Regions from separate parts of the Homo sapiens genome. Here regions 2 and 3 are each linked to region 1. Evidence: fine-mapped expression QTL. A gene starts in region 1. Each other region holds a variant in brackets. All regions are shown on one strand. Distances are between the middles of the regions. Region 1 holds the start of FASTK (Fas activated serine/threonine kinase). Region 2 holds the start of NOS3 (nitric oxide synthase 3). Region 3 has its middle 61 kb from the start of KCNH2.

Evidence for each region. PIP is the estimated chance that this variant, and not a neighbour inherited with it, causes the effect. A credible set is the group of variants that fine-mapping cannot tell apart.
Region 2: its variant is the best candidate, but not a certain one, in a credible set for the expression of FASTK in fibroblasts (GENCORD, PIP 0.77).
Region 3: its variant is the best candidate, but not a certain one, in a credible set for the expression of FASTK in anterior cingulate cortex (GTEx, PIP 0.68).

Annotation. Positions count from the first base shown.
Region 1 is chr7:151,076,716-151,082,905 of GRCh38, forward strand. FASTK (Fas activated serine/threonine kinase) reads right to left here and starts at 4,094. Exons shown (of 10, transcript NM_006712.5): 1 at 3,970-4,094; 2 at 2,785-3,207; 3 at 2,127-2,306; 4 at 1,847-1,986; 5 at 1,164-1,377; 6 at 906-1,065; 7 at 595-686; 8 at 386-521; 9 at 198-312; 10 at 1-117. The coding sequence starts at 4,051. The coding sequence ends at 10. TMUB1 (transmembrane and ubiquitin like domain containing 1) reads right to left here. Exons shown (of 3, transcript NM_001136044.2): 2 at 5,460-5,878; 3 at 4,370-5,185. The coding sequence starts at 5,848. The coding sequence ends at 4,834. RefSeq lists enhancers at 1-484, 485-1,460, 2,437-3,413, 3,414-4,389, 5,107-5,401 and silencers at 287-366, 3,829-4,508.
Region 2 is chr7:150,986,411-150,993,688 of GRCh38, forward strand. NOS3 (nitric oxide synthase 3) reads left to right here and starts at 4,607. Exons shown (of 27, transcript NM_000603.5): 1 at 4,607-4,890. RefSeq lists enhancers at 1,982-2,022, 2,529-2,688, 7,249-7,278, promoters at 3,959-4,827, 5,769-7,278, 6,336-7,278, 7,172-7,278, cis regulatory regions at 5,829-5,849, 6,856-6,862, 7,261-7,267 and a silencer at 6,566-6,596. The variant G/A (reference allele first, on the strand shown) is at 4,269.
Region 3 is chr7:150,914,015-150,921,292 of GRCh38, forward strand. No RefSeq gene overlaps it. Among named protein-coding and RNA genes, the nearest start is that of KCNH2, 61 kb to the right of the region's middle. The variant G/A (reference allele first, on the strand shown) is at 2,873.

The sequences.
Region 1 (6,190 bases):
ATCAACCCCTCAGCCCCCTTCAGGCCCCCAGCGCAGGCCCAGGGCCTGGAGCTTCTGCCTCAGGTAGCTCTTGAGCTGGGGCAGGCCTCTCTGGGACTCCAGTTCCTCGAAGGGTAGCTGTGGGGAGAGGAGAGGGCGGCAGGTTACCCGCAGGCTGGGAGTGAGGATGCGCCACGGGCCAGGCCAGGGCCACTCACCGGCAGGAGCTGGTAGCCCATCAGGCCTAGGTGCCGCTCCCTCAGGGCCCTCGAGCCCAGCAGCACCCGGCCGTCCCGGCAGAAATGCCAGCGTTCCCGCAACACCAGCACCACCCTGCAGGGGGAGGGACGTGGCTCAGGGCATGGCGGGCAAGGTGGCCAGGGCTCCCCCACCCTGCCTCCTTTACCTCTGGGCAGGGTCTCGAGTAGTGGCGCTAGAGGCAGCCTGGCCCTGTGGGCAGGACCTTGGTGGGTATGGCAGGAAGGGGTCCTGGGTCCTCACGGGAAGCACAGCACCAGAGCTGCTGGCGCACAGCAGGAAGTCTGGAGGGGAGCAGGGCCGGCGGCCTTAGCCAGGGCTCCGTCTCCCCGGGCCTGCCGCCTGCCCCTTGCTCACCTGTGCAGTAGCCTGGAGGCACAGTCAGGTCCTGGCGGTATTTCTCCTCCCCCAGCAGCTGGCGCAACCCCTCAGCTACTATGTCCTTGTGACTGAGGAGAAAGGACACCAGTAGCAGGAAGGGCCCGGCACCTCATCCTAATCTGTCCCAGTCTAGTGCCACCACCCTGGGCAAAGCCCTCTGCTGCTTCAGGGCCCAGTTTTATGGTGGCCGAGAGCTCCTTAGCTTTGGCGCTTCATGGTCCCTCTGGCTTTTCCACTCTGCTGGTCCCAGGCTGGCCCCTCCCCTTGCCCCAGGCTGCCCCATCCACCTGTACTTGCAGCGGGCACGGTCGGTGATGAGAGGCTGGGGAAAGATGGGCACTTGCTGCCTTCGGGGAAGGCGGGGACCCCGGTATCCTGGGAGCTCCAGCTCCACGGCCGTGTCCAGCAGGGAGAGGTAGCGACGCACAATCAGAGCATGAGGGGTGCCTGTGGGGAGGCGGGGACTGGGGCTCTGGGCTGCAGGCCACCCTGCTCCCCTGCCTCTCCAGCCCTCAGGGGCCCAGCCAGCCATCCTGGCTGCGTACCACTGATGTAGTTGATGAAGCCAGGGGAAAAAACAAAGTGCAGGGCTCTGAAGGGCAGGCACCGCAGTTGGCACAGTGACATCAAGATGTTGACTGTAGCCAGGGGTGCCACCCCTGCTTCCCGAGCCAGGATCCTCTCAAGGCAGGGCATAAACTGCTGTTCCAGGGGCAGGTAGTTCAGTCGCCCAAAGGGCAGGACCAACTTCTGTACCACCTGTGGAGGAAGAGCAGTTCATTACCCAGTGTCAAGTATTTCTGCAGTCATCTTTTACAAGCTAAGCCTTAGAGAGGCTTAGCCCTCAGGTTTACAACACTGCTGTAAAGACAGGACAGTCCCTCCGGCCTCACAGTTCAACAGCAAAGCAGTCACGAGCTGCACGTGACTAATCACCAGACAGGCAGAGGGGACATCGCTGTGGGGTCTGGCCCTGAAGACTTCGAGAGGGATGGGTGGAGCTAGGATGCTGCTAAGAGTGCTTTGGGAAACTGCAGATTTCCAGGAATGCATGCTGCTGACAGGAGGTGGGCAAGCCACAGAAAGGGTGTAGAAAAGATGCAGGTCCCAGGGGACAGAGAGGGTGTGTCTGCTTCAGGAAAAGGATAGCCGAGCTGCACGAGGCGCTGGGCCTGACAAGGTCCCTGAGAATGACAGAGATGCACTGGAGGGTGGGTGGCAAGCCCACCTTGCTGCTGAGTTGCGTTTCCTGAACCACCAGGAAGTGGGCAATGGCTTCCAGAAGCTGGGGCTCCCGCAACCGGTGCCGGGCCAGGTGCTGGGCCAGGAGCACCATCACGTGGGGAGTCAGTTCCTCTGGCCTTGCCTCTGTGAAGAGCAGCCTGTCACGCTGGGCCTCAGCCGGACCTCCGGCTGGCTCAATTCCACCTCAGCCCAGCCAACTGAGCCCACCTTCCTCCTCCTGTCAGCCCTCCCCACCCCCATCTGATTTTAACCCCCTCCAGCACCTGCCAGGCTGCTGATCAGATGCTGCCGTGGATACCGCAGAAAACGGGGGCAGCTTAGAGCAGCTTCCAACCCTTGCCCACCTCGGAGAAGGGGCTGCAAAGGGGGAGGTGGCTTCGGAGGGAGGCGGAGCCTTCGCTCCTGTTCCAGGGCACACACCAGGGGACCATCAGATGGAAAGCCTGAGGGGGAGAGGTAAAAGGCAGCCTGGTAACAGAGCTGTGCTGCTGTTCTTATCATGGGGTTACTTGGTGAATTCTCCACCTTTCTCCTCTCCCGTTTCCTGAGCGGGAAGGTGTGCTAGAGTTTAAGTGCAAACACTAGAGACATGTAAAGTATCATGTGGCTATGAGGTATCGAAACGGTTTGTAGGGAGTACATACAAAGATGGCAAATAGGCTTTCATCTCATACCAATTGTGACAAATTATGGTGGCTTCCTAGGGCACTCTATTAGCAGGAATCTGGGGTGGCACCCTAGCGAGGCCGGAAGGAGTGCGTTCGACTCATGATGTCTGCCGCAGACATAGGACGGGAGCAGGAGCAAGCGTTCCTGGGCAAACGCCTGAGAGGCTGGGTCTCTGTCCGTGGTCCTCTACTGTTCTCCCTATTCTTCATTAACACCTAGCCCCCCAGGCGCCCACCTCAAGCCCCTCCTCACCAAGTAAGACTGCAAGGTGCAGACACACGTGGATGGTGTGAATGTCAAAGGAGGGGCAGTTTCGGATGATGAGCTGACTCAAGTCCTGCAGTGTGACCTGCTCCACAGGAGGGGGCCGTGGCCGAGACCCCAAGAGCTGGCCCAGACGACGAAGCGCCACCGAGTAGTGGTGGGCGCGCACCTTGCTGGGGTTCTGGCCCAGCCAGCGCAGCAGCTCCCCAGGGCTCTTCGCCTGTTCCAGAAGCCGCTGCAGTCCTTGCACAGGACCTGCACTGGGGCCTCCTCCAACAGGCCGGTCCCCCCATTTGCTGGGCCCCAAACAGCAGGGCTGTACTGGAGGGATCAGCAGCAGGCCAGACAGCCGAGCAGGGGAGGTCTGAGCAGAGAGCAGGACTCGAAGCATGGAGTTGGGTGATGGAGACCCTGAGGGGCAGCCCAAAAAAGGGGGTGAGGTTTTCTCCAAAGGGGAGAAAGACCTGCTACCTACTGCTTACCTCACTCCTCATTTAGGGGGCCTGTGGTCAGAGCAAGCCTTTGTGACTGCTCTGGGCCTCTTCCCCACCCCGCCCCTCTGCCTCCTTCCACGCCTTTGAAACAGCAATCATAATCCTCAGTGCGCTCAGCGCAGCACTACTTGCAAAGCAATTCCACATGCACCATCTCTGATGCTCCTTACACGCCCATGAAGAGTAGGCAGGGCTGGCATTACCTCATTTCACCGGTGGAGAAACGCAGGCCCAGAGCAGCGAAGGGGTTAAGTTAAGCCCGAGGTCATTAACCGGGTTAGTGGTCGCGCCCAGTCTGGAGCCCAGGCGGCACCGGCGTGCACTCTCCCGACCACCTCCCTCTCCCACAGGAGGCGGCGGCGGCACAGAGGGTGGAACGCGGGCTCCGCGGCTGGACGGTGCTGGGTTCCATGCTGGGCGCTCCCACTCACCAGCGGCGTGACCTTGGACAAGTGGCTTCGTCTCTCTAAGTCTCCTCACCCGTGAAATGAAAACGCAGCGCCCACCTCGCAGGGCGCGCGTGGAGCCCGAGTGCACCGCTTTGCGATGGCGCGGAGTCGGCGAAGTCGGGGGCCCCAACACCCACCCCGGCCCAGGGACGCCAGGAGACCGTGGCCGCTGCCGCTAACACCAGCTCCCGCTGCCCTCCCGCAGCCCTCCCCGCAGGCGCCACCCCTACATGACTCCCCGGGCCCTGCGCAGGTCGCTCCCTCAGTCGGTCTCGGGGCCCGGGGGCCGGGTTCCCCCCGCGGCCTCCTCATCGGCTAGCCACCGAGTCCGCCATCTTCCCAGCAGCCCCTAGATAGCCGCCCGGACGCCAATCCCGAAGCAGCTATCGGTCTTCGGAGACGTGGCTCCCGGCAGGCACTGCGAGCCAGGGAGCCGCGAGCCCCGCCCGCGGGAAGTGCGCGCCCGGCGCCGAGGGCGGGGCCACGGAGGCCGGCGCCAAAGCCAGAGCAGAACGCTGGGGAGAAGGGAAGGCGGAGGGCCAGACCCCAGGCGCAGTCCGTGCCCTTCTCTCCCAAGGGGCGAGGACTCCCCGCCCGCCAGCCCGCACACACTCAGACACACTGCAAGAGTGAAAACTTCACAGTTACTTTAATCTGCACGGGTTCCGGGGAACTCCTCTGCCCCTCCCCGCTCCCCTTCACCAGCCTCCCACCGACCTGGCGTCCCCAACTCAGCCCAAGGAGCTGTCAGGGATTGGAGGCGGCTGGGTCCTCCGGCAGAACACTAAGACGGGCCCCCGGGGCGGCCCGGCTCTGCCCGGGGCCGAGGCAGCGACAGCAGATGCCCGACCCCGAGGAGCCCACTCCCAGTGCGGGCTGAGGGTCAGCAGCCCCGGGAGGTGGCCCCGAGCCCCGGCGGTCGCAGGGCGGGGCCTCCGCCAGTCCCGGGAGTCCTCTGCGGCGCAGGGCTGGGCTCCAGGGCGGCGGGAAGAGGCAGGCCGGAGAGGCGGGCCTGGGCAGGCAGCAGCTCCCGCCGCGGCGCGGGGAGCAAGGTCCGGAGGGGCCGGCGACGCTGCCAAGCGCCCGCGGAGGCACTACGGGCGGTACATGGCAAAGGCCAGGAGACTGAGGAGCAGGGTGAAGCCGGCCAGGCCCAGAGTGGCGGTCAGGGGAAAGAAGGGCCGGTACTGGATCTGGCAGTACCAGAGCAGCAGCAACAGCAGGAGCAGCAGGGGCAGCAGCAGGCTGCCGATTTCCAGCCCGGAGGGGCCGGGCTCGGACCCCGGCGGGCAGGGGGGATTTGGGGGACCGACTCTCGTGGACACGTGGCAGTGGAGAACGCAGTTGGGAGGGAGGTGAAGGCTGCCCAGGGTCTGGGTGTCGTCGCCTAGCAGCTGCCCTTGGTAGATGAGTCGCACCTGCTGTTCCCGGCCGGGAAACTGGGTCCTGAGGAGAGAGGGACCTGGGTAAGAGAGCAGGCCTCAGGCAATCCTAGTCCCTGGCCCCGGAACAGCACTCCCACCCTCCCCCTGCCCTCCACAACACACCGGCCCTGGCCTGGGAGGGGCCGTCTGCCAGGGGAACAAGTACAGTTGTGATCTGGGGCGCTCAGCGCCTCCAGTATAAAGGAGGGCTGGGTCTTAGGTGTCTCTGGGGGCCTTCTGCGACCACTCTCCCAACCCCTGTCTTTAGCATTGCTCCTGCCTCTTGACCTACTTACCTTTTCAAGGAGCCAATGGTGTCGTGGGGCCAGGCCCTGGCCACCTGCTCTGAATCATTGAGGAATTTCAGCCGTAGCACGAGGGGCTCCTGCGGGGAGTCCGGGGCTGGCGGTGTTGCTGTGAACCCCGTGCTGGGCTCTGGCTGTGCAGCTTGACCTCTGTGTCTCAGGCTGGGGGTCTCTGCCCCTGGGGCCTCCCCTCTCATGCTGTCGGTAGCTGCCATGGCTGCGCTGGGCTGGGATGGCGTTGGGGTCCCTGACGGCTGGGGCAGTGGGTCCCCGCCCTCAGCGGTGTGCGTTGAGACCCAGGCAAGGGCCAGCACCAGAAGGCAGGCAAGCACCGAGAAAAGGACGGTCACCTCATCACCCACCCCTTCAATCAGGGTCATGGCGCCTGCCTTGCCCGCCGCGCTACCGAGCTGGAGAGGCACAAAGAGCCCGTGAGGCCCGGGCCCCCTGGCCAGGAGCCCTGGAACCTCCACAGGGTCCTGCCCTCACCCCACCGCGACGCTCCCACCGTCCTCAGCCTCCGTCCCCTCACCCACCCCAGGGTACCGGCTTCTCTGCCTCCCAGTCGCCCCAAACTTGCCTCCGGGTGCCCCTTCCCATCGCCGAATCCCAAGTCCTAACTTTCTGTCATCTGAGCTCGAGGTCTTCAACCAGCTCCCAACTCACCCAAACCCTATCCCAAGGTAAGGGCCTAAGCAACGCCTCTCCTAAACTTCACCCCA
Region 2 (7,278 bases), 90 kb before region 1:
AAGCCTCAGGTCATCATCAACAGCAAATATGTCAGGGACGCCTCTGGGAGGTCACTGGGAGTCGGGCATGTAATCCATTTGGGGAGAGCAGGAAAAAAGACAAGTCACCAATGACTGAAGGTTCTCCAGGGCTTGAAGTCAGGATTTCCACATCTCACAGATCAGCAGGGGGCTCTAAAGGCTGCTCCTCCCACCCTGGTCTGGAGAGAGGGCCCAGCCCCTCCTGGGGGCACCTGAGAGGGTTCTGTCCAGACGATCCCAGTGACAGTTGCTGTGGAATTTCCATGCTGGGCACACTTGAGGCCCAAAGCTCCGATTCCCAAGAGGCGCCACAGCAACCATGCCAGGAAACTGGGCCAGGCTGAGGGTGGCAGGAGAGGGAGACAGGAGGAGGCAGGAAGGGGGCAGGGCCTGTCAGATGGATCCCTGACAACCATCCGTCTCAAGTCCGAGGTAACCTTATATCTTTGCCTCAGCAGATAGGATGACTTTGTATGTAGGGCCTTCAGAGCCCAAGACAGGGCACCTATGGTGAGCATTCAGGAGGCCTCAGCCTGCCCCTGAAACCCCCTCGTTCTCACTCTGGATCCCCGGAATAAAGGACAATTTCGGCCAGGCGCTGTGGCTTACGCCTGTAATCCCAGCACTTTGGGAGGCCGAGGCGGGCGGATCATGAGGTCAGGAAATCGAGACCATCCTGGCTAACACGGTGAAACCCCATCTCTACTACAAATACAAAAAAATTAGCTGGGCTTGATGGCGGGAGCCTGTAGTCCCAGCTACTCGGGAGGCTGAGGCAGGAGAATGACGTGAACCCGGGAGGCGGAGCTTGCAGCGAGCTGAGATCACGCCACTGCACTCCAGCCTGGGCAACAGAGCGAGACTCCATCTCAAAAAAAAAAAAAAAAAAAAGGAGGAAATTTCAAGTTCCCACGGATGGGAAAGCCTTCATATCCACACAGATGCTCTTGGCCCAAATTAGCTTTGGAGGGGCAGGGCCCAGATGAGGAGGCTGGTCAGTGAGGGAGCCCAGGATGCACAACCCATGGACAACTGCAAAACTGTGAGGGGGGGAGCTCCCCAGCTGGGGAGCAGGGAGGGGGCACAGGGAGATGCTGCCCCGCCCTCAGGTGGGCTCCCTGGGGCAGAGCCTGGTGAACCTCTTCCAGAGACGCTTCTGCCTCCTGGCTGACAGACCCAGTGACCTGGAAACCCAAGACCTTACCCTGGCAGTGGCAGGGGTCTGCCAGCCTCTGGGGGCTCTTGGGAGTCTGGACCAACTTCCACCTTCCCAAGGGAAATGCAAGAATCTCCAGGCCTTGATCAACCTTCAGGTTTAGATTCTTCCTTCAACACCACTGCCCTGAGTGTGTGTGTGTGTGTGTGTGTGTGTGTGAGAGAGAGAGAGAGAGTGCACGTATGCATGGATGTATGTGTGTGTGTCCGTTTGTTCAGGCTGCTGTAAGAAAACACCAAGGACCGGGTGGCCTAAAGACAACATAAATTTATTTCTCACAGTTCTGGATGCCGCAGTCTAAGATCAAGGTGCTGGCAGATTCCATGTCTGGTGAGGACCCACGGTTCATAGACAGTGCCTTCTCACTGTGTCCTCACATGATGGAAAGGTCTGGTGAGGACCCATGTTCATAGACAGCGCCTTCTCACTGTGTCCTCACATGATGGAAAGGTGAGGGATCTCTCTGGGGTTTTTTTCTTAAGGGCACGCATCCTATTCAGGAAGGTTCCTCCCTCACGATCTCAACACCTCCCAAACACCCCGCCTCCTAACACCATCACCTTGGGGGCTAGGATCTCAACTTATGAATTTGTGGGGAAATCAAACGTTCCCCGAAACATTTGTGTGTGTAAGAGAGTATGCATGGATGTATGTGTGTGTGACTGTGCATGCATGCATGTATATATGTGTATGTGTGTGCATGCATGCATGGATATATGTGTAAGAAAGTGTGCATGCATGCATGGATGTATGTGTGTGCGTGTACGTGTGTATGTGAAGATACCTCCTGAGCCTTCGGTTTGACACACCCCATGTGGTCTGTGCAGGAAGCAGGGAGGCGCAGATTTGTCCCAATCTGCTCCTCTGGGGGTGGGCCCAAATGAGCCACCTTGGGACCCCAGATGGCTGGTGTAGACCTACCACCCGATGCCGTTGGCTCCTTTCCTATCCCCTGGGTCTCCCCCTCCCTTCGTGGTGTCTGATCCCACGATTGTGCTGAAATCGCTCCTCCTCGGCTCTCTGCTGCCCTCATGTGGCTGTCTCAAGAAGGGCTGGGGCTACCAGGGGGCGCCCAGGATCAACACAGGAGCCCCTTCAGACCGGCAACCGCGTCCACAGCCCGGAACCCTCAGCATCCCAGAAGCCGCCCCAACGCCCTCACCAAAGGCTCAGCACCAATTCTGCAATCTGGAAGCTGAGCAAATCTCTCCGCCCCCCAGCACTCAGCATGAGTTACATCCTCGGGAGGGGGAGGCCTGGCGGCAGCTGCTCCCCGCCCCTCTCCCGCTGCTCCCGCCTCCCTTCCCTCCTTTCCCCGCTCCCCACCCGTCCTTGCCAGCAGGCAGGAAGGAAGCTGCTCATAGTGCAAGGGTGGGGTACTTCCAGCTCACACTGAACAGCCCCGGGCTGGGCTATAAAGAGTCAGGGACTTCCGCTCAGTCACCCCTGCCCTCACCACCCAGGCCCCCATGCACACACCCCAGGCCCAAGGCCTTCCCTTCCCAGCACAGCCCTCCAAGGTCAAGGCGTCCCCCGCCCAGCCCTGCAGAGCACTCTGGTCTGAGAGGGAAGGCAGGGGCAAGATTTGCCGCCTCTTTGGCATTATGGAGGGGGCAGGGGGCACAGGGCACAGCCCTCCCCAGGGAGGGATCCCTACTCACCCACAGAAGGCTGTCACCTTACCCCTGGGGTCTGGGCCAGCCCTCCCCGAGGCGGAAACACAGCCACTGTCAGGGACAAGGGGGCTCAGTTCCCAACCAGATCATCTCCAAAGCCCATTCAGCTTCAGATCTCATGATTGAAGATGGAAATTCTTTCAGCCGAACACCAAATCTCCAACCTTGAAAACTGTTTTTTCGGAAAGTCCTCTTTAAAACATGGTTACCAATATGAGCAGTCAGCCACTAAGATGCATGGGCATCATTCTTGGCAGGGCTGCAGGCATAGAGCAGGCCAGCACCAGGCAGAGCCCTGGGGACGGCAGGCCTCCTCCGACAGGCGGGGGAATCAACTGTTCTCATCAGAGCACCCTGATGGAAGGCAGGACACTCCGGACAACACTGGCCACGGCCCAAGAAAGGGGAAGCAGGGAATCCCCTGTCCAGAGAGCATTCATCTCTGACTTTTTCTGTCTGTTTAACTTTTTTTTTTCCTCCTTTTCTTAAGACCCTGCCATGGCATCCTCTGCCCCAATTCAAACCCAATCCAGGCCTACTCTGACCCTCAGCTTTCAGCGCTGACTGTACTGAACTGGACCCCATCCTCCCTGTGACCCTCAGCCTTCAGTGCTGGCTGTACTGAACTGTAACCCATCCTCCCTGTGGCCACAGAGTGCTCCTTCTTGCACTCCTCCCCTTCACCTAGACTGACTTCTTTCTGCCCACACAGACCCATCTAGCCTCAGCCAATTCCCTTCTCAGTGGACCCTCTCCATTGCCTCCAGAGCACAGCTTCCAGTCCCCAGGCGGCTGCACACATTTGCAACAAAACAAGCCAATGTATGAAGCAATCCCACTCAGTGCAGGAGCTCAACCCAGCAGAGGATCCCCACAGAGAGGAACTGACCTGTGTCTTCCAGAGCACACAGGTTCAGAGCACACAGGTTCATTTAAGTGAGAACCCACACTTACAGAGCAAGCTGCCCAAAAACCACGACCAGGAGGGCCCAGAGAAAGAGCTGTCCCCGGGGCCTTGGGGACAGGGTGACAGCCACCCAGAGATCATGGAGAAGGGGACGTAAGGAAGACCTCACAGAGGAGTCATCCTGCGACTGTGTTGGTTGGGTCCTTCAGGAAGCAGAGTCCCAGGAGTTGGAAGCATAAGAGGAATACTGCGGGCAATGCCTGAGAAAGATAACAGGGACCGGGAGCAGGAGTGAGTTGGGCAGGGGAAGGATCAGGCCCACAATGCCAGGCTCACACCTGCAGAGGAGGGAAGAAGAAGAAGGGCCTCACATCAGCCCAGCGGGGGATGTTACGCCCACAGACGCCCCGGGGCTCAGTTACTGTCTAAGTGTTAGAAATAAATTTTC[G/A]GTGCCACAAAAGAAATAGCACTCAGATATAAATGTTCCCAGCAAGGCAATTTTACTTCTATAGAAGGGTGCATCTCACAGATGGAGCAATGGCAAGAGCACACCTGAACAAGGGAAGGGAAGGGGTTTTTATCCCTAAGGCAGGTAGCCCCTACAGCTGTGTTGTTCCCCTATTGGCTAGGGTTGGACCACACCGTCTGAGCTAATTGTTACTGGCTATTTTAAAGAGAGCAGGGGTAAGAGCCGGATTGGCAGGGTAAGTAGTTTGGCAGGAAGGACGGTCACAGAACAGGTGACTCAGGATGACTCAGGTCAGAGCAGGTGACCAGTGGTGACTCAGTTCGGAGCAGGTGATAGAAGCTAGGAGGGGGTTGTTTACTGAAACTAGGGGCAAGGAGACGAAGAGAACATGAAAGTTAAACTTTAAGATGAAGAACAAAGCTGAACATACTGATGCATTGGATCTTTGGAGAGGATCTCAGAACTCATTGTACTTAATTTACAGGCTAAAACCTTAGAAGAGGAATTTATTATATCCTACACAAGACTCCAGGGAAGCACATGGCCTTGGACTGAAGGCTGGCATCTGGAAGCTGTCAGCCACCAGCACCTTCTGCAGCAGGTACCTGCTCTCTAAGAGGGAGGCCTGGGTGGTGCACCTCCAGAGCTGCCCAGGCTGGGCCTCAAGGAAGAAAAAGATTTTCATTTGTCAGAGGCGGAAGGGAGAGGTGGAGGGAACAGCACAGCAGCGGCCCAGGGGCAGGGAAGCACAGGACCATTAGGGAGACACGAGAAAGCCCATTTGTCTAGAACAGAGGATTCAAGCAGTGCACCAAGGAAAATGAGGGCCAGGCCAATGTGCTGGAGTGGCTTTGTTCTTGGCTGAGGGTTTTGGGTAGTGCCAAAGCGTAAGGTAAGCCCTGCTTTCCAGAAGAATCTAGCAGAGTGTGGAGCCCAGATGGGACTGGAAGGCCTGGGAGGGGTCAGGTGGCCACAGGGACGGGCCACAGCCAGTGGTGCAGGCAAGAAGACAATGGCCATCCATGGTGGCTCACACCTGGAATCCCAGCCCATTGGGAGGTCGAGGCAGGTGGATCACCTGAGGTCAGGAGTTCGAGACCAGCCTGGTCAACATGGTGAAACCCTGTCTCTAATAAAATTATAAAAATTAGCCGGGCGTGGTGGTGGGTACCTGTAATCTCAGCTACTCAGGAGGCTGGGTCAGGAGAATCGCTTGAACCCAGGAGGCGGAGGTTACAGTGAGCTGAGATAGCACCATTGCATTCCAGCCTGGACAACAAAAGCGAGACTCTGTCTCAAAAAAAAAAAAAAATTAGCCAGGCGTGGTGGTGGGTGCCTGTCGTCCTCGGGAGGCTGAGGCATGAGAATCACTCCGGGAGGCAGAGGTTGCAATGAACCAAGATCACACCACTGCACTCCAGCCTGGGTGACAGAGCAAGACTCTGTCTAAAAAAAAAAAAAAGACAGAAGGATGTCAGCATCTGATGCTGCCTGTCACCTTGACCCTGAGGATGCCAGTCACAGCTCCATTAACTGGGACCTAGGAAAATGAGTCATCCTTGGTCATGCACATTTCAAATGGTGGCTTAATATGGAAGCCAGACTTGGGATCTGTTGTCTCCTCCAGCATGGTAGAAGATGCCTGAAAAGTAGGGGCTGGATCCCATCCCCTGCCTCACTGGGAAGGCGAGGTGGTGGGGTGTGGTGGGGCCTCAGGCTTGGGGTCATGGGACAAAGCCCAGGCTGAATGCCGCCCTTCCATCTCCCTCCTCCTGAGACAGGGGCAGCAGGGCACACTAGTGTCCAGGAGCAGCTTATGAGGCCCCTTCACCCTCCATCCTCCAAAACTGGCAGACCCCACCTTCTTGGTGTGACCCCAGAGCTCTGAGCACAGCCCGTTCCTTCCGCCTGCCGGCCCCCCACCCAGGCCCACCCCAACCTTATCCTCCACTGCTTTTCAGAGGAGTCTGGCCAACACAAATCCTCTTGTTTGTTTGTCTGTCTGTCTGCTGCTCCTAGTCTCTGCCTCTCCCAGTCTCTCAGCTTCCGTTTCTTTCTTAAACTTTCTCTCAGTCTCTGAGGTCTCGAAATCACGAGGCTTCGACCCCTGTGGACCAGATGCCCAGCTAGTGGCCTTTCTCCAGCCCCTCAGATGGCACAGAACTACAAACCCCAGCATGCACTCTGGCCTGAAGTGCCTGGAGAGTGCTGGTGTACCCCACCTGCATTCTGGGAACTGTAGTTTCCCTAGTCCCCCATGCTCCCACCAGGGCATCAAGCTCTTCCCTGGCCGGCTGACCCTGCCTCAGCCCTAGTCTCTCTGCTGACCTGCGGCCCCGGGAAGCGTGCGTCACTGAATGACAGGGTGGGGGTGGAGGCACTGGAAGGCAGCTTCCTGCTCTTTTGTGTCCCCCACTTGAGTCATGGGGGTGTGGGGGTTCCAGGAAATTGGGGCTGGGAGGGGAAGGGATACCCTAATGTCAGACTCAAGGACAAAAAGTCACTACATCCTTGCTGGGCCTCTATCCCCAAGAACCCAAAAGGACTCAAGGGTGGGGATCCAGGAGTTCTTGTATGTATGGGGGGAGGTGAAGGAGAGAACCTGCATGACCCTAGAGGTCCCTGTGGTCACTGAGAGTGTGGGCTGCCATCCCCTGCTACAGAAACGGTGCTCACCTTCTGCCCAACCCTCCAGGGAAAGGCACACAGGGGTGAGGCCGAAGGCCCTTCCGTCTGGTGCCACATCACAGAAGGACCTTTATGACCCCCTGGTGGCTCTACCCTGCCACTCCCCAATGCCCCAGCCCCCATGCTGCAGCCCCAGGGCTCTGCTGGACACCTGGGCTCCCACTTATCAGCCTCAGTCCTCACAGCGGAACCCAGGCGTCCGGCCCCCCACCCTTCAGGCCAGCGGGCGTGGAGCTGAGGCTTTAGAGCCTCCCAGCCGGGCTTGTTCCTGTCCCATTGTGTATGGGATAGGGGCGGGGCG
Region 3 (7,278 bases), 160 kb before region 1:
AATATTGGAGGGCATCTCCCCAACGCTATGATATGGCCTGATGACTCTCCCTGCCCGAGACATCAGCGCTCCAGCATCCTGGATGCTCACAACACTCAAATTCCATGTCCCCCGGACAGTGCTGGGCAGACACCGTCAACATCCATCTCTCGGACTCCCCATTTTGTGGGTTGTCTATCCCCAAGTCGCCCTTCCTCTGCTCGCATTATTTATTTAGCTTTATTAAAGTCATGTCTGATTTACCTTTGGCCTAGAAGGCAACCTGTCTCCTGCCATTTGCATTGATTCTAGTAACCAAGCTCTCCTGGGGGCCTTTCTTTTGTCCCCACAGGGGCAGCCAAGTGTTAAGCTCTGCAGACTCATGAAGCCAGCGATGTTGGGCTAGTGAGGGCTCTCTCCCTGTGTCTTGCCAGCACCTCAAAATTCTATCCTCCCAGGAGTGGTTGCAGTGTTAAGGGCTGTTTTGCGCAGAGAAGAAAAGGTTGAGGGGACCCGAGCATTTGCCTAACATATCTGAGTCGTTGTCAGAGGCTGGGCTTATGGAGCAGCTGGAAGGAGAAGCAGGACCAACAGATGCAAGGCACTAGAAGACAGATTTCGCCTACAACAGGCACTGTCCAGCGAAGTCAAGCATGCTCTGTTCCTGGACAGGGGTCCATCCATCTGGGCTGTGGTGGAGGGGATTTTCATTTTGCATGGATTCAAAGGAACATTCCAGCAGTAAGGAAAGTACATTCACCACCACTCCAGGTTCAATCCCCCAGAGTTTTAAATTTCTCCCATCTTTTTCTGGTTTCCCTTCTCCTTCTGAGAAATTTAGACATCTTTTTTTAAAATGTCCTTACTGCCAGCCTCTCCATCACATTCCTGGTCCCAATCCAGACCTGAGTGTGGAAGTGTGAACCCCCTTTTCTAATAGGACATCTGAGGCCACCATGGGATTTGCTAAAGGAATTGTTATGGGGTTCTCATTCAAAGGAAAATGCAAAATGTTGTCATGTTTGTGGAGTAAAGAACTAAGATACGTGAGTCAGCCCGTCAGTCTCCCTCATGTTTCCTGGCCTCCCATGCATTTCAATGGGGCCATGAAACTGGCTCCAAGCAAAGCTCCAAGCTGGTGTGTCTCTTCGGTCACCACCTGGTAGCCACTCTCCACATGGCAGCCACTACAGAGGCCGCCTGCTGAGAGGGCAGAGTCACAGGATGTGAGCCCCTCGACCTCTGTCATGGCAGGGAGGAGCACTGCCTGGGACCTTGCCCTAATGAGAAATAAACCACGGTTGAGGTTTATTTCTTAACCATGGTTAAGGTTTTGGAGTTGGCTTACTACAGCAGTGAGCATGGCTTAACCTAACTAAACACTTGCCAAGCTTTTCACATATCCTTTAAATTGCATGACCACATATGGGGAGATCCTGTCACTAACCACTTTACAGGTACAATAAATGAGGTCCTTTAAGCAATGACTCTGAGGTCACACAGCCAGCACATGTTGGAGCTCATATTTGAACCCAAGTCAATCCAACTCCAAGGCAAATGTTTTCCCCACTCTATACTAACTCCCTTTCTTCAAAGAGGATAGTCCCAAATTAATTCTGTTGACTGGGGATTCTTTTTCCTCCCCTAAACCCCATCTAGAGAACTCAACCCAAAAGAACTTCTTTATATGCTCAAAGCTCTCCTCTATACCTCGCTCCTGTCCACTCTGCAAGCCCCTCAGCCAAGAGACAGCTGGAGGAGCATCCTCCAGCTAGAGAAAACATGACCACACACCCAGGCCTAGGCCACGCACGCCCGGGCCCCTTGCTTCACCACACAGAAAGCTGGAGGCTGTTTCCCACAAATACAAGTTGACCTAGAGGACATGTAAGTCCCATTTTAATGTCCAAGTGCTAGAATTTCATGAAGTAGCTGAAAAGTTATGAGGGCTCAAGTGTAGCAACAACAGTGGGATGAACTGGGTCAATCAGGGAGGGAAGGACACCTGGATCTGAGAACGCTGATCAGGGAGGTGAAGGACAGGCTGGAGATGCAGGCAGTGCTGACCAGTGGGGAAATGCCAAGTCTGGGATCTCAGAAGCCTGATGCAGCTAAGGCCAAGACAGGATGGAGTTCAGGTATGTCTACAGCGAGGTGGAGATGGAGGGAGCCTGCAAGTTATGCTCACCATAATGTGTGTGCCCCAGGAATGGAGTGACGAGAAGTCAGGATCATCCAGGAGAGGGGGTAAGGCCAGAGGGCACCAGCCACACAGATTGTTGGGACTGTGTGTTGCAAGGGATGGCGTGCCTTTGAAGTGGAGTGGCAGAGGGTGGGGTGCGGGAGCGAGCGCAGGTCACAGTGCCTCCTGTCCTCCTAGAGTGGAGAGAAGTTGATTCTCTAAGAAGGGGAGAGAGCAGTTTGGATCCTATGGTGTGAGATGGCTTTCCCCTTACCTTCTTGGAAATTGCCCTGGACCATCGAGCAGAAAGGAAAACCAAAACACAGTGGCCATACCTGATGAAGCTAGGAGACAGATAGGTCTCTGAACAATATCCTCTCCAAATGGAGTGAAGACTGCGCATGCAGGATGAGAGGAGAGAGTCCTTGGCAGTGGTGGCTCAGGAGGATGAGGGTGCAGCCCAGAGAGAAAACCTGGGACTCCTCACTTCCAACAGTGGAGGCAGACCCCAGGGGGCCTCCCAAGACCGAATCGGATCCCAAGAAGCAGAGGCGGGTGAAGGTGCAGTCACACTGATGAGCGCTTTTTGTAGGAAGCAGTCTGTCCAGAGGACCCATGGAGATGCGCCACCCAAACCCTGCTTTGAGGAAGGACCTGTCCCACCTTCTGCAAGTGCCATCAGGGGCGACCTCGAGCTGTCAGCCTCGCCAG[G/A]GCTTCTTCAGCTGAGGACCACTGCTCATCCAGGTCACATCAGCTTGTGTGCAACCCATATCCAAAGACTAATGGAAGCAGAAGTATCAAAGTTCACCACATCTGCCCAACCCCAGACAACTCTCTTGTTCCTTTCGGCCCCGGACCTCCTCATGGGTGAGCAGAGGCTGTCAGGCTGCATCCCAGCCCAACAACTGCCTCTGCCCATTCCTGCTTCCCCTCCTCCCTTCCTCAGGCATTGACCCAAGGGCACATATAATAAGCATCCTAATCCAGACTGTGACCCCTGAGGCAGCAGAAGAGTGCCCCCGCCAAGATGTCCTCATTATAATCTCCAAAACCTGTGAACACGCTACTTTACTTGCCAAAAGGGACTTCGCAGGTATGATTAAATGAAGGATCTTGAGATGCTGAGATTAGCCTGGATTTTCCAGGTGGGCCCAATGTAATCACAAGGGTTCTTATGAGAGGCAGGAATGTCCAAGAGAGAGATCTGGAGATGCTGTGTTTATGCATTTGAAGATGGAGGACCAGGCCATAAGCTAAGGGATGTCGTTGACCTCCAGGCACTGAAAAAGACAAGGAAGTGGATTCTCCCCTAGAACCACCAGAAGGAACATAGCCCTGCAAACATCTTGACACCACTTTATATCTTACAGTTCTGGAGATCCAAAAGGGGTCATAAATCATTTTGCCCACTATGACCCCTTTTGGATCTACAGAACTGTAAGATATAAAGTTGTGTTATTTTAAGCCAAATGTGCATTGTTCTAAGTTTGCAGTGTTTGTTACTACAAATATGAAAGTAATACACACCCTAACGCAACAGCAGAAGAAAGACTTTGCATTGCAGACAGCTCTACACCTTCCTATCCCTGCTGAGCGGAGAAAAGAAAAAGTTTAAACAAATTCTGTTTTTTAAAATATATGTATAATTCACAGGTTCATTTGTGTCAGCCTAGAATGGCCCCGGCCCCTACCTCTTACGAACCTCCTGCAAATATCTGGTCCAAGAAAAACTTGTCTGCATCAAAGAAGGATAATATTTAGATCTATACACAATCTATACAAAAATATTATAGACTAAAAATGAGAGAAAAATGGCAGATAAAAAACACTTGTCAAAAATGTGTTGCAATGAACAGATGAAAAGCATATCCAAATATTTTGCCATGAATTTTTTAAACTTAAGTAACAGCTCAAGAAAGAGATGGTGAGAAAACAGAAGGATATGAAAAGAAAGCTGGCAAAACCCAGGAAAGAGTAGAATCAAAATTTAAATCATCACAAAAATGAAGACAAAACTGGAAGCAGCACGAGAAAGTACTTCGGAACCCAGAAGGGGGAAACGGATTAGACGGGCGAGCGAAATGAAAGGCAAACAAAGAGAGAAAGTGACAGCTATGAAGGAAGGCAGAGGAGCTGCAACTCCCACAAAATTGGAATGCACGAAGAAGAAACACAGCCACAAAACAAATATTTTAAACAATAATTCATGCACAGTTCCCTAATGAGACAAGGCACTTTTTCATGTTTCTTGGCCATTTGGCTGTCCTATTTTGCAATGTGCTTGTTCTGTTCTTTTACTCATTTATTTTTCTATTGATTCCAGTGCCTTTTTCATGTTGATTTGTAAGGACTCTGTACATTCTGAATAGGAGTCTTTTGTAGGTTATGTGCACTGCACATACCTTCTTCCCCTCTGTGATTCAGCTTTTTTTCCTCTCAGAGATGTTTTGTTTTGTTTTGTTTTTTGTTTTAGGCAGAGTCTCACTTTGTCACCCAGGCTAGAGTGCAGTGGCGTGATCTCGGCTCACTGCGACCTCCACCTCCCGGGTTCAAGCAATTCTCTTGTCTCAGCCTCCGGAGTAGCTGGGATTACAGGCATGCGCCACCTCACCCGGCTAATTTTTGTATTTTTAGTAGAGACGGGGTTTCCCCATGTTGGTCAGGCTAGTCTCAAACTCCTGATCTGAAGTGATCTGCCCGCCTCAGCCTCCCAAAGTGCTGGGATTACAGGCGGGAGCCACCCCACCTGGCCATACAGATGTGTTTTTAATAAACTTCTATTTTCGAATAATTTTAGGTTTACAGAAAAGTTGCAAAGATAATGCAGAGTTCCACATAGGCTTCACCCAGCTTCCCCTAACGTTAACATCTTAAGTTACCACAGTACATTTGTCAACACTGAGGAACTGACAGTGGTGCAATACTATTAATTAAACGAAACACTCTTCACCACTCTTTCCATTCATGTCCTTTTGCTGTTTCGGAATCCAATCCCGGTCACTGCGTTTCACTTCATTGTCATGTCTCCTTAGGTTTCCTCCTCCCGCGTGTGACCATTTCTTAGTCCTTTTTTAGGATCTTGACACCTTTGAAGATTAAGTATTTTGTAGAATGTCCCTCATTTTGGGCTTGTCTGATGTCTTTGGACGATTAGACTGGGCATATGTGTTAGAGGCGAACCACAGACGAGAGGCGCCCTTCTCCTCACTTCATATCTAGGGCACGTGATCTCAGCATGGCTCATCATGGGGAATATTAGCTTTGAGCATTTGGTTAAGGCTTTCCCACTGTAATGTGACTCTTCTGCCTTTTCCATATTCCGTTCTTTGGAAGCAAGTCCCTAAGTCTAGCTCATGCTGAAACTCATATTTCTGGAGGGAGGAGCGTCTACCTACTTTAGAATTCTTCTGTATGGAAGACTTATCCCGTCTTCCCATTTTATTTACATACTCAATCATGTATTTATATCAGTTTGTACTCACAGATATTTATTTTATTCTTTAGTTTATAATTCACTACTATTGTTATTTACTTTGCTGCTCAAATTGTTCCAGCTTTGGCCACTGGAAGCTCGTTCAGGCTGGCTCCTCTATCCTTGTGATATGTCCTTGTCATTGTGGGAATTTGTATGGGTACTCCCTAAAGATGTCTCTTGATAAACAGAAATTCTTCATTTTAGTGTAGTCATATGAACTAATGTTTTCCTTTAGATTTAGTGCTTCTAGTTTCCTGCTATTACTTTCTAAAGGTATTTTTTGTTTTGTCTTTCACAGACAGATTGTGATCAGGAAGCATCACACAGGAGCTTCTAGGGGGCCGGTGAGTTCGATTTCCCAACCTAGATGGTGGTTGTCTGAGTGAATCAAGTATGAAAATATAGGCACACTCACCAGCAAGAAATAGGACATGAGCAGCTAGAAGCGCAGGTGCAGGCTAAAGGAAGAAGAGGAAAGGCACTTGTGGCATAAATGGCAGGGGTATGAAACACAGAATCACAGTGGGCTCTGCTATGCTCCAGCGGCCCAGCTCTCCTTCCTTTTGGAAATTGCCCCTCACACAGCTTTGCATGGTTCAACTACACCACAGAGGAAGAATCACGTGGCACATGCCTGGTCATCCTAGATTAATTCAAGAAGGATGGGCACATGACCCAAGCAGGGCCAATTTTCCATTTGATGCTGCTGATTTAATTTTATTTCTTTTTCTTTAGAGACAGGGCCTCACTCTGTTGCCCAGTCTAGAGTACGGTGGCACTATCATAGCTCACTGCAGCCTCAAAAACTCCTGGGCTCAAGTGATCCTCCTACCTCAGCCTCCTGAGTAGCTGGGACTACACCCAGCTAATTCTGTTTTTTGTTGTTGGCGGGGGTAAAGATGGGGTCTCTTTATGTTGCCTAGGCTGGTCTCAAATGCCTAGGCTCAAGCAATGCTCCCACCTCGGCCTCCCGAAATGTTGGGATTAAAGGTGTGAGCCTCTGCATCCAGCCTGGTTATTTCTATTAAAGAGAAACAGGGCTTCCCTCATGAGAGCTGCATTTGTAAACATCACAACCTGGAGCTACCAGTCGCTTTCTTAAAGCCACAGAAAGATACTGCCAGAGAATGAACCCAACAAGAGTAAAGCAGAGCCAAAGTTGGCGACAGACTGAGCTCTCAGGACATCAGTTGATCATGTAAATCCAGCCTAACCTAAAACCAGTAATATCCTGCCCTTCTATGTTATAGCACCCAACAGATTCCCTTTTAGCATAAGCTAGTTGGAGTTGGGTTTCTGCAACTTCCAACATAAAGTGCCTTGTCTAATAAAAATGTGTTCAGAAGACAGAGAGCAAGGCTTCAGTTAATATGAAGGTAGAGTGAGGGGAAGAAATGAGTTGACCTTGAACTTTACCACCAGTAGAACAATGGTTCATAGGACACACTGGGGAGTGAAAATTTTAGGAAGCTGGGAAAAGAGAAAAAGGCTAAGATAGATGGGGCAGAAGGGAGTAAGAATAAGGATCAGAGGAGAGCAACAGCCTGGGCCTTGTGACATGAGCAGGCCCGTGCCTGGAATGCATCTCCAACAGCCAGCACTTCAGGTGATCTGAGGACATTGCCAGACAGTGGAATCCTGC